Linked DNA regions of Homo sapiens: region 1 is linked to region 2. The links come from fine-mapping of genetic effects on gene expression. Tissue or cell type: whole blood. Region 2 holds a variant in brackets; the other region holds the start of a gene. All regions are shown on one strand. Distances are from middle to middle.

Evidence for each region. PIP is the estimated chance that this variant, and not a neighbour inherited with it, causes the effect.
Region 1: it holds the start of CLSTN3, and the variant in region 2 is fine-mapped to the expression of CLSTN3 in whole blood (TOPMed, PIP above 0.99).

Annotation. Positions count from the first base shown.
Region 1 is chr12:7,127,901-7,131,900 of GRCh38, reverse strand. CLSTN3 (calsyntenin 3) reads right to left here and starts at 1,530. Exons shown (of 18, transcript NM_014718.4): 1 at 1,189-1,530. The coding sequence starts at 1,252. RBP5 (retinol binding protein 5) reads left to right here and starts at 3,012. Exons shown (of 4, transcript NM_031491.4): 1 at 3,012-3,198; 2 at 3,483-3,661. The coding sequence starts at 3,126. RefSeq lists silencers at 514-583, 1,674-1,773 and an enhancer at 731-1,232.
Region 2 is chr12:7,193,031-7,198,239 of GRCh38, reverse strand. The region is part of intron 5 of PEX5 (peroxisomal biogenesis factor 5); the gene reads right to left. Among named protein-coding and RNA genes, the nearest start is that of PEX5, 5.9 kb to the right of the region's middle. The variant G/A (reference allele first, on the strand shown) is at 2,831.

The DNA.
Region 1 (4,000 bases), 66 kb after region 2:
GATTTCCATTCTTTCCTCCAACCACACACCAGCAAGCCTTTGGCATGGGAAGGCTTTCTTACTGATGACCACCATAACCCCTTCCTGAATGCTGAGGAGAAAGCCACAAGATGGTGCACAGGAGGCGGTACAGGAAGTGGCAGGAGGCTAGGAGGCGAGGCTGAGGTCAGAGATGCAGGCAAGGAAGAGAGAGCGGTGGAAGGGCAGGGCTGGGCGCCCTCTGCACAGCTCCCCCTCCCACCCTGCTTGTCTTCCCAGGTCTCTGAGCCTCTGTCTCCTCTCCTCCTGGCCCCCTGCGGTCTCTGCGTTTGCTCCCTTTCACTCCTAGGCTCCCGGGCTCCTCCTTGACTCACTCTTTTCCTGATTTTCCTCATTCCTCCCTCTTTTTTCTGCCTCCACCTTTACCCTTTTCCATCCCCTCCTTACCCCCTCCCACGCCTCATCTCCGGTCTTCTCCTTCTCAGCTTTCCCTCTCATACTCATTTAGCGCCCCCCACACACCCACTTCTGCCCTTTCCTGCCAGTCTCCATCCGTTTCCACCTACCTGAGCCCTCTGCCCGCAAGCCCTCCCTCCCGTCCTCCCTCTCCGTCTGTCCGACAGCCCCGCCCAGCTGAATGTATCCGCTGTCTGCCAGAGAGGGCAGCTCTGGTAACCCACAGCCCAGCTGATGCAGGCAAAAGGGTCTGAATGCAGAGGCACACGCAAAAAACATACGTGCTCCGAATTGCTGAACTGCAGCAAATACTTTCTCCCCAGGATGGGATGGAGGCGAAGCAGATGGATCTGCCACACACCCTTAGCATGCGCCAGTGAAAGGGAGAGCCGCGGGGAGAGGCCTATCACCGGCTCGGGGGCAGTCCTTCCCAGACCCGAGGTAGCCACCAGCGTGTAGAAATTAGGGGAAGGGGAGAATAGAGACCCCAGGACGGGAATGGAGACCAAATGGGAGCAAGATGACCAGCAAGAGAAACGCATGGGTAGAGATGGACCAGAAAGGAAGATGTAGCTGGGGGAAGAGAAAGAGAGGAGACGGAGCAGGTCTGAGAACGGATGGGAAGGAGGGTGATCAGAAGAGGGCCAGACACCTGTCAGGTGCCAGGGAGCCTCGACACCTCCTTCCCACCCCCACCCCGCACGGCGCTGCCCGACGCCCCTCTTTCGGTACCCCCACCCCCACCTCACTCACCTTTGTTACAGGAGCAGGACGCGAGCAGAGAGGCCAGCAGAAGGGGCAGCAGCAGGAGGGTCATGGTGCGGCGTGGGGCAGGGCAGGGCCAGGCGTTTGCCTCCCCTGGGAGCCTCCAGCCTGCGGATTCCACCTTGCGGGAGGGATACAGGGGGTCTCCAAGGAGCGGGGTACAGCAGGGCAGGGACGGAAAGGAGCCTGCCGCCCACACTAGTCCATAAAGCGGGCCTGGGCAGATCCCAATCTGGGTAGCTGAGGCGGTGGACTTGCAGCGGCTTCCCGTTTCCCCCAGCCCAGCGTCCTCACTCTCTCACTCCCACCCCAACCCCGCTACTGCAGGATGACGTCAGCACAGCCGGGCAACGATTGATGGGGCCGCCGGCCAATCAGGTGACTGGGAGGGGGGGGGACCAGGTGCTGCAGCGGGGGAGGGAGCCAATGAGACTGGGGCGTCGGGGCTGGAGAGTTTCAAGGCTCCTTCCCCTGGCTGCAATTTTGGGGGAGCCGAGGAACTGCGGGGGCTGGGGAGGAAGCTGGAGAGCCACGGAGGGGGTGGGAAAGAAGAGGGACGTGGGGAGAAAGAAGCCAGAAGCCAGGGGGTGGGGAAGAGAGACGTCAGCGGGACCTGAGGGCGGCCAGGAGGGGTGGCACCGCGTCACCCCGCCCCCCAACTCTGCCATAACCTGTTTCCACAGCCCCTTCCATCCACAGATCCGTGCTGCGTGCCCTCTGGGAAGGGTGAAGTAAAACCCTCAGTCTGAGCCTGAGAAATCCTGGCATTTGTAGCCCAGGGCTGCGAGGAAGCCACAGGGCGGTCCGCAGGGCGGTATCGAGGCTCTGGGACCCAAGGAGGGGCAGGACGTCGTGCACCCCTCGCGCACGCACCTGTCGGGACCGGCCGCCTCCTCCTGCCTACCTGTCCTGCCTCCTTCGCCCCGAATTTCACCTTAAACCATGATGAACCAAGCCCAGTGGATTCTGAAGCCCGGGACGATGGCAGGTTCGAGAGAGAATTGGGCAGCTGGGGGCGGGGCACAATATTATTTAGGCGCCTCCACCCCACCTTCACAGAAATACATCTGGAAAGCATGGGCTGTCCTAGGGCTGGGGACTGGGGGTTACGGTCTCATCGATGACTCAGAGGGAGAGAAAACCCCCTGGGTCCCAAGCCAAAAAGAATAAAATTCTCCAGAATAGCCAACAAACTCCTCTCAGGCTGTCTGTTCCGGACTTTGAACTCAGCACCCCTCGGGCTCCACCTCCCTCCTAATGGCTCTTTAGGACCAAGAGTCTGGAATGCCACTTTGGGGTCCCAGTTGAGCACACTACCTGAGGGAGCTCTGAGAGCCAGGCCTACAGGGTGCTCTTCATGGTGGCAGCTGGCCATCCTCACCCCCTCCCCTCACATCTTCCAACATCACTCAGTCCCAGGATCTCAGGATATTGTTGGAACTCATCTCCACCTCACACAGCCAGACCAGCCTCAGGTGTCTCCCAGGAAAGACTGCCCCTCAGGCCCTGGGACGGTTCCCAAGCCTGCCAGAAATGAGGTGGAGGCCAACACTGACCTTTGGATGGCTGAGTTTTGGATGACTGACAGCCCCAGATCCTGCTCCAGGTTCCTTCCTCAGGAAGGATCCTGCTCCAGGTTCCTTCCTCAGGAAAAGCCAAGGTCAGGCGCAACTTTGCCAAATCCCTGCCCCTCCTTCAGGCTGGAGACACCACCCCCAAACTCACCATGCGGGGAGGGAAGAAGTCTGGTAGGGACTCTTATTGCAACAGGGCCCCAGCCTTATAAAAAGCCCTGGTAACCCGGCCATTACACATCCTGTCTCTGTGTGTGGAGCTGGCTGGAATCTCTCAGCCTCACCTGCCAGACAACACCCCCTCCTTCCTCACCCTGTCTCCTGCATTCTCCTGAAACCTTCATCCACACAATGCCTCCCAACCTCACTGGCTACTACCGCTTTGTCTCGCAGAAGAACATGGAGGACTACCTGCAAGCCCTAAGTAATGGCCTCGCCCTCCCAGACCCCTGTCACTCCCTTTCTCCCCTCTTCCTTCCTGCTTCTTGGTCCCATGGAGAAGAGGGAATGCCCGGGGTTGGACACTGTGGAAAGGCTCAGGCGGCTGGCACCAGACCTGGGATCCATTTCTAACCAGGCATTGGTAGGAGGGGGTGAATCCACAGTCCCAGACCCAAAGAAGGGAAACTCACAGCCCTGAGGGGCTGCTGCAGGCAGAGGAGCTCCTGGCTGGCTAGCAGCACCCCTACTAACAGGCAGCCCCCACAGACATCAGCTTGGCTGTGCGGAAGATCGCGCTGCTGCTGAAGCCGGACAAGGAGATCGAACACCAGGGCAACCACATGACGGTGAGGACGCTCAGCACCTTCCGAAACTACACTGTGCAGTTTGATGTGGGAGTGGAGTTTGAGGAGGACCTCAGGAGCGTGGACGGACGAAAATGCCAGGTACATTTCCCCTGGCTGGGCGGTGGCCGGAAGGAGGCATCACAGGAGACTCCTAACAACATGGGGCAAAACAAAGTGACCTTCCCCAGCCAGAGCAGCGGGGAGGAGGGGAATGGTCACCACAGCAGGGAATGCAGTCCCCAGGATACCAGTCTCCAGAACTAACAGGTCCTGGTGCTCCCTGTCTCTCTCCCACTTCTTCCCTGCCCCCTCTTATCACCAGCCCAAAGGGCAAAGAACAGGCCAACCCAGACCGAAGAGCAAACATTTGCCCACCCTCCAGCCTGTGACACTGTTGGTCACCCAGAGTCCCTTTTACTTTAGCATCAATAACTTCAC
Region 2 (5,209 bases):
CACTTTTGATTATCTTTGAGTAGCTATGTTTTTTCAGTCTAATTTTAGAAACTGTCTCAGAAGCTCTAGTGACAAAGGGGACTGCTGCAACATCAGAATTAACCTATCAAGGCAACAAACTCAATGAGGGTGCTGAACTGTTTTTCATCCTCCAGGACTTTGCCCTTTACTATCCTGTGGCCAGAAAAAAAAAACAAGGAGACTGACTGCGGGCACTAAAGAACACAAGGAAACAAAGAGAAGGCACAAGCCTACGGTGTTCTTTCCTTCTGCCCTGTGTCCAGAACTAATCTTACTAGTTAGTCTGCCACCACCTTCCCCTGCTATTCCCCACTCCTGGCCCATGACAAGGACAGTTCCCAAGGGGGAACTCCACTCTCTTGTTGAGAACCTACTAACTCCAATTTGCATTAAAGAGGGACATTTGGGCAGGGGTGTGAAAATATTAGCTGATACTAGCAGTCTTTGTCCCCAGTTTCAAGATCTGACCACCCTTGCTTTTACTACCCCTTCGGTATTAAAGTACAAAAACTTCTACTCCATTTTAACTGAAACTTTGCCTGAATAATGTCAACAAAGTAGTCTCAAAATCTGAGCATGAAATGTCAAAATGTGAAAAACAAAGATCAAGACTCTCAGAATACACCTAATTATAAATAATAAGTAATTACTACTTATTATATTATATATAACATATATAATTACATTATATATAACATATAATTATTACATTATATATAACATATATAATTATTATATTATATATAACATATATAATTATTACATTATATATAACATAATTACATTGTATATGACATATAATTACATTGTATATGACATATATATAATTATTACATTGTATATGACATATATAATTATTACATTGTATATGACATATATAATTATTACATTGTATATGACATATGATTACATTATATATGACATATATAATTATTACATTATATATGACATATATAATTATTACATATGACATATAATTATTACATATGACATATATAATTACATTATATATGACATATATAATTACATTATATATGACATATATAATTACATTATATATGACATATATAATTATTACATTATATATGACATATATTATTACATTATATGACATATATAATTACATTATATGTGACATATATAATTACATTATATGTGACATATATAATTACATTATATGTGACATATATAATTACATTATATGTGACATATATAATTATTACATTATATGTGACATATATAATTATTACATTATATGTGACATATAATTATTACATTATATGTGACATATAATTATTACATTATATGTGACATATATAATTATTACATTATATGTGACATATATAATTATTACATTATATGTGACATATATAATTATTACATTATATGTGACATATATAATTATTACATTATGTGACATATATAATTATTACATTATATGTGACATATATAATTATTACATTATATGTGACATATATAATTATTACATTATATGTGACATATATAATTATTACATTATATGTGACATATATAATTATTACATTATATGTGACATATATAATTATTACATTATATGTGACATATATAATTATTACATTATATGTGACATATATAATTATTACATTATGTGACATATATAATTATTACATTATATGTGACATATATAATTATTACATTATATGTGACATATATAATTATTACATTATATGTGACATATATAATTATTACATTATATATGATGTAATTATTACATTATATATGACACATAATTATTACATTATATATGGCACATATAATTATTACATTATATATGACACATATATGTATGACACATAATTATTACATTATATATGTCATATATAATTAAATTATATATGACATATATAAATTATGACATATATAATTAAATTATATATGACATATAATTAAATTATATATGACATATATAAATTATGACATATATAATTAAATATGACATATAATTAAATTATATATGACATATATAATTATTACATAACATATATTACATTATATATAATATATAATGTAATAAATACATTATATGTAACATATGTAATAAGAAATACATTATATATAACATAATGTAATAAGAAATACGTTATAACATAAGAAATACATTATATATACATTATATATAATGTAAAATGTATATATAATATATATAATATATAATGTATAATGTAATAAGAAATATGGTTGGCAATTTTTTTTGACCATAGATCCATCTGTTAATTTCAAGGACTCTCAAAAATTAAATACAGATTCTGCTCACTAGCTCTTACAGGAAGCATTTCTCTTCCATTTGCCCCAATTAGACTGTTGCCTCAAGTGTGGAGACGGAAAGGAGATGCTTAATACTCAAAGAGACTTTAAGATCTCCTAGTTCCTTAGTTCCATTCTTAGTTGAAATTCTTAGCTCCATTCTGTTGAAAAATAACTACTACCTCCTCAACTCTCCAAACACTTCTAACTCTCAACTAGAGTATTTTGCAAAAGCATATTCTGGCCATAAGTGCTCCTCAAATTCACAGAAAACATTTCAAATTCCTATGAAATGGTCCTCTCAAGGACAAAAAAAAAAAAACAGAAAAAACACAAAGCACCTTTGAATTTTTACAACAGACATGAGGACTTAACAATAGATATGAGGCAGTTTAAGAAAAAAAATCCCAGAGCTGAGAAAAACTATCCTCAAATACCTATAATTTGGTAGTTGGCCAGATTAAATCGCCACAAGACCCAGAATTTCTTGGCATTGGGAACCTACTCCAACAAGAGTCAAATAACC[G/A]AAAGAATCAAAAGAGTAACACACTGCCTTCACAATCTTTGAGAAATTCCTACAGAAAATCAGATCCATGTGGATACATCTGAGATCAAGGCAACTAAGGTCTACAGAGGGGATGCACTGCCTGAGGTCATACAGATTAGTAGAGTGAGAATAACCTAGACACCAAATACCCCACTCAAAATGTGCACCTCATATAATTTCTCGTTGTTTACTCATTCCTTCTAGGCACATCTTCCCCAAGCTCAAAAGTCAAAAACTCAGAACTTGCTACTCTTACTCATGAAAGTTTCTGTGTCTGCTAAATAGCAGCACTGTGGAGAAGAATACAAGTTGTAGGGTCAGTCTACCCACATTTAAATCCTAACTCCATCACTTATTCACTGTGCATCTTCAGACTAGTTACTCAACCTTCTTAAGTTTCCATGTCCTTATCTTTAAAGCAGAGATAACAGTAGGGGCTGCGGTGAAAACCAATGAATACAGTAACAAATGTTAGTTATTATCATTAGTCTGCTCATGGCAAACCTATAACAAAAGCAGAAAACATCACAATGAGACTGTTATTCCAAAGCCTCTCCTCCAACATCCAGAAAAGATCTGTTGCCAATTATCTTCTGCTACTGCTATCCATGGCTTTTCCCATGAAAGTGCAGGTTTATCTCTCACGATTATCATATGAACCTCACATACCATGTCAACCGAAGCTGTCTAAATTTAAGAACCCTGAAGATGTGTTTTATCTCTAGATCTGAGCAAACACAAGATGGAGAATTATTTGACCCAGAAGATTTAAGACGGGGGGATTCCATTACAAAATAAGGTAAGCTAAAAAAATGAACTTCATGTGGTGAGAGAATAGTTCTGTATCTTGATCATGATGGTGCTTACACAAATCTACACATTTAATAAAATTGCAAAAAACACACACACACAAATAAGGGCATGTAAAACTGGTGAAACCTAATAAACTCTGAGGATTGAAACAAGGGCAACTTCTTGATTTTTGATCTCTGCATAACTGCTATGTAAAATGTTACCACTGGAGGAGACTGGGTGAAGGGTATACAGAACCTTCCTATACATTTTTTTTTTCAACTTCCAGTGAAACTAAGTACTTCCAAATAAAAAATTTAAATTTAAATAATTGAGCTGCAACATTCTTTTTAAACTTGATTTTGACTCTTAACAGTGGAGATTTTAAAATAAGAACTTAAAAAGTATAACCTTCTTTCATCTCAAAATCTACTTATCTATAAAGCCATAGCTAACCCATACAATTGTATCAACCACAAATGCTGTAATTAAAAATGAAGGATAATAAAAAAAAGTCAGTTACGACAAAATGAACTCCTTTCCTTTAGCTTTTTCTCCCAGATCTCAATTCATTCATTCAATACCAGAGGCCTACTACATGCAAAGCAATATACTGCTGCAATAAGACATTTTTATGAAGGCAGACTTCAAACAGCTCAACTCCCATTCTAAGGTTTGCATGTCTCTGCCTCTGTGAAACAGGCACGATTCCAAAAGAATCTACAAAATACTAGAAGAGCTCTACTAAGAGCATTTAACTGGTGAGACAGATAAAACATGTTTTTCTAAAGTTCTTTTTCATTTCAAGTTAAGGAAGATTTCAATGGCTGCATGCAATTCAGGTAATTACAGCAAAAATTTCATCCATCTCAACGCTCATAGTAGCAATGATTTTTCTGAATTATCAAAAATGACTAATGCCCACATTACAACAGAAGCCTCTCTGTGATAAGAGATAGCACTTAAGTCTAAGGTTTATGTGAAAAACTGAGTTTCTGTCTTGGAGAGGGTCTTTGCTATGGTTCAGATTTTAACTTGCGGCAATTTCACAAAGAATCTCAACGTGAGGGCGCGTGCGGTGGCTCACGCTTGTAATCCCAGCACTTTGGGAGGCTGTGGTGGATTACTTAAGGTCAGGAGTTCAAGACCAGCCTGGCCAACATGGTGAAACCCTGTCTCTACTAAAAATACCAAAATTAGCCGGGCATGGTGGCACACGCCTGTAGTCCCAGCTACTCAGGAGGCTGAAACGGGAGAATCCCTTGAAGCCAGGAGGCAGAGGTTGCAGTGCGTACAGATTGCACCGCTGCACTCCACCCTGGGTGAGAGCAAGACCCTGTCTCAAAAAAAAAAAAAAAAAAAGAATCTCAAGAGCCACACAGACATGAGTTTGAATATCATCTCTATTATTCAATGATTTTGCACAAAGTATTTAACTTTTCCAAATCTCAGTCTCCTCATCTATAAAATGGGGGTGGGATATCCACCTTGTGTTACTGTTACTGTGAAGTTCTAATGAGCTTAAGAAGATAAAGTGATTAGCACTCTTAAAGCCAAGAGCACCTA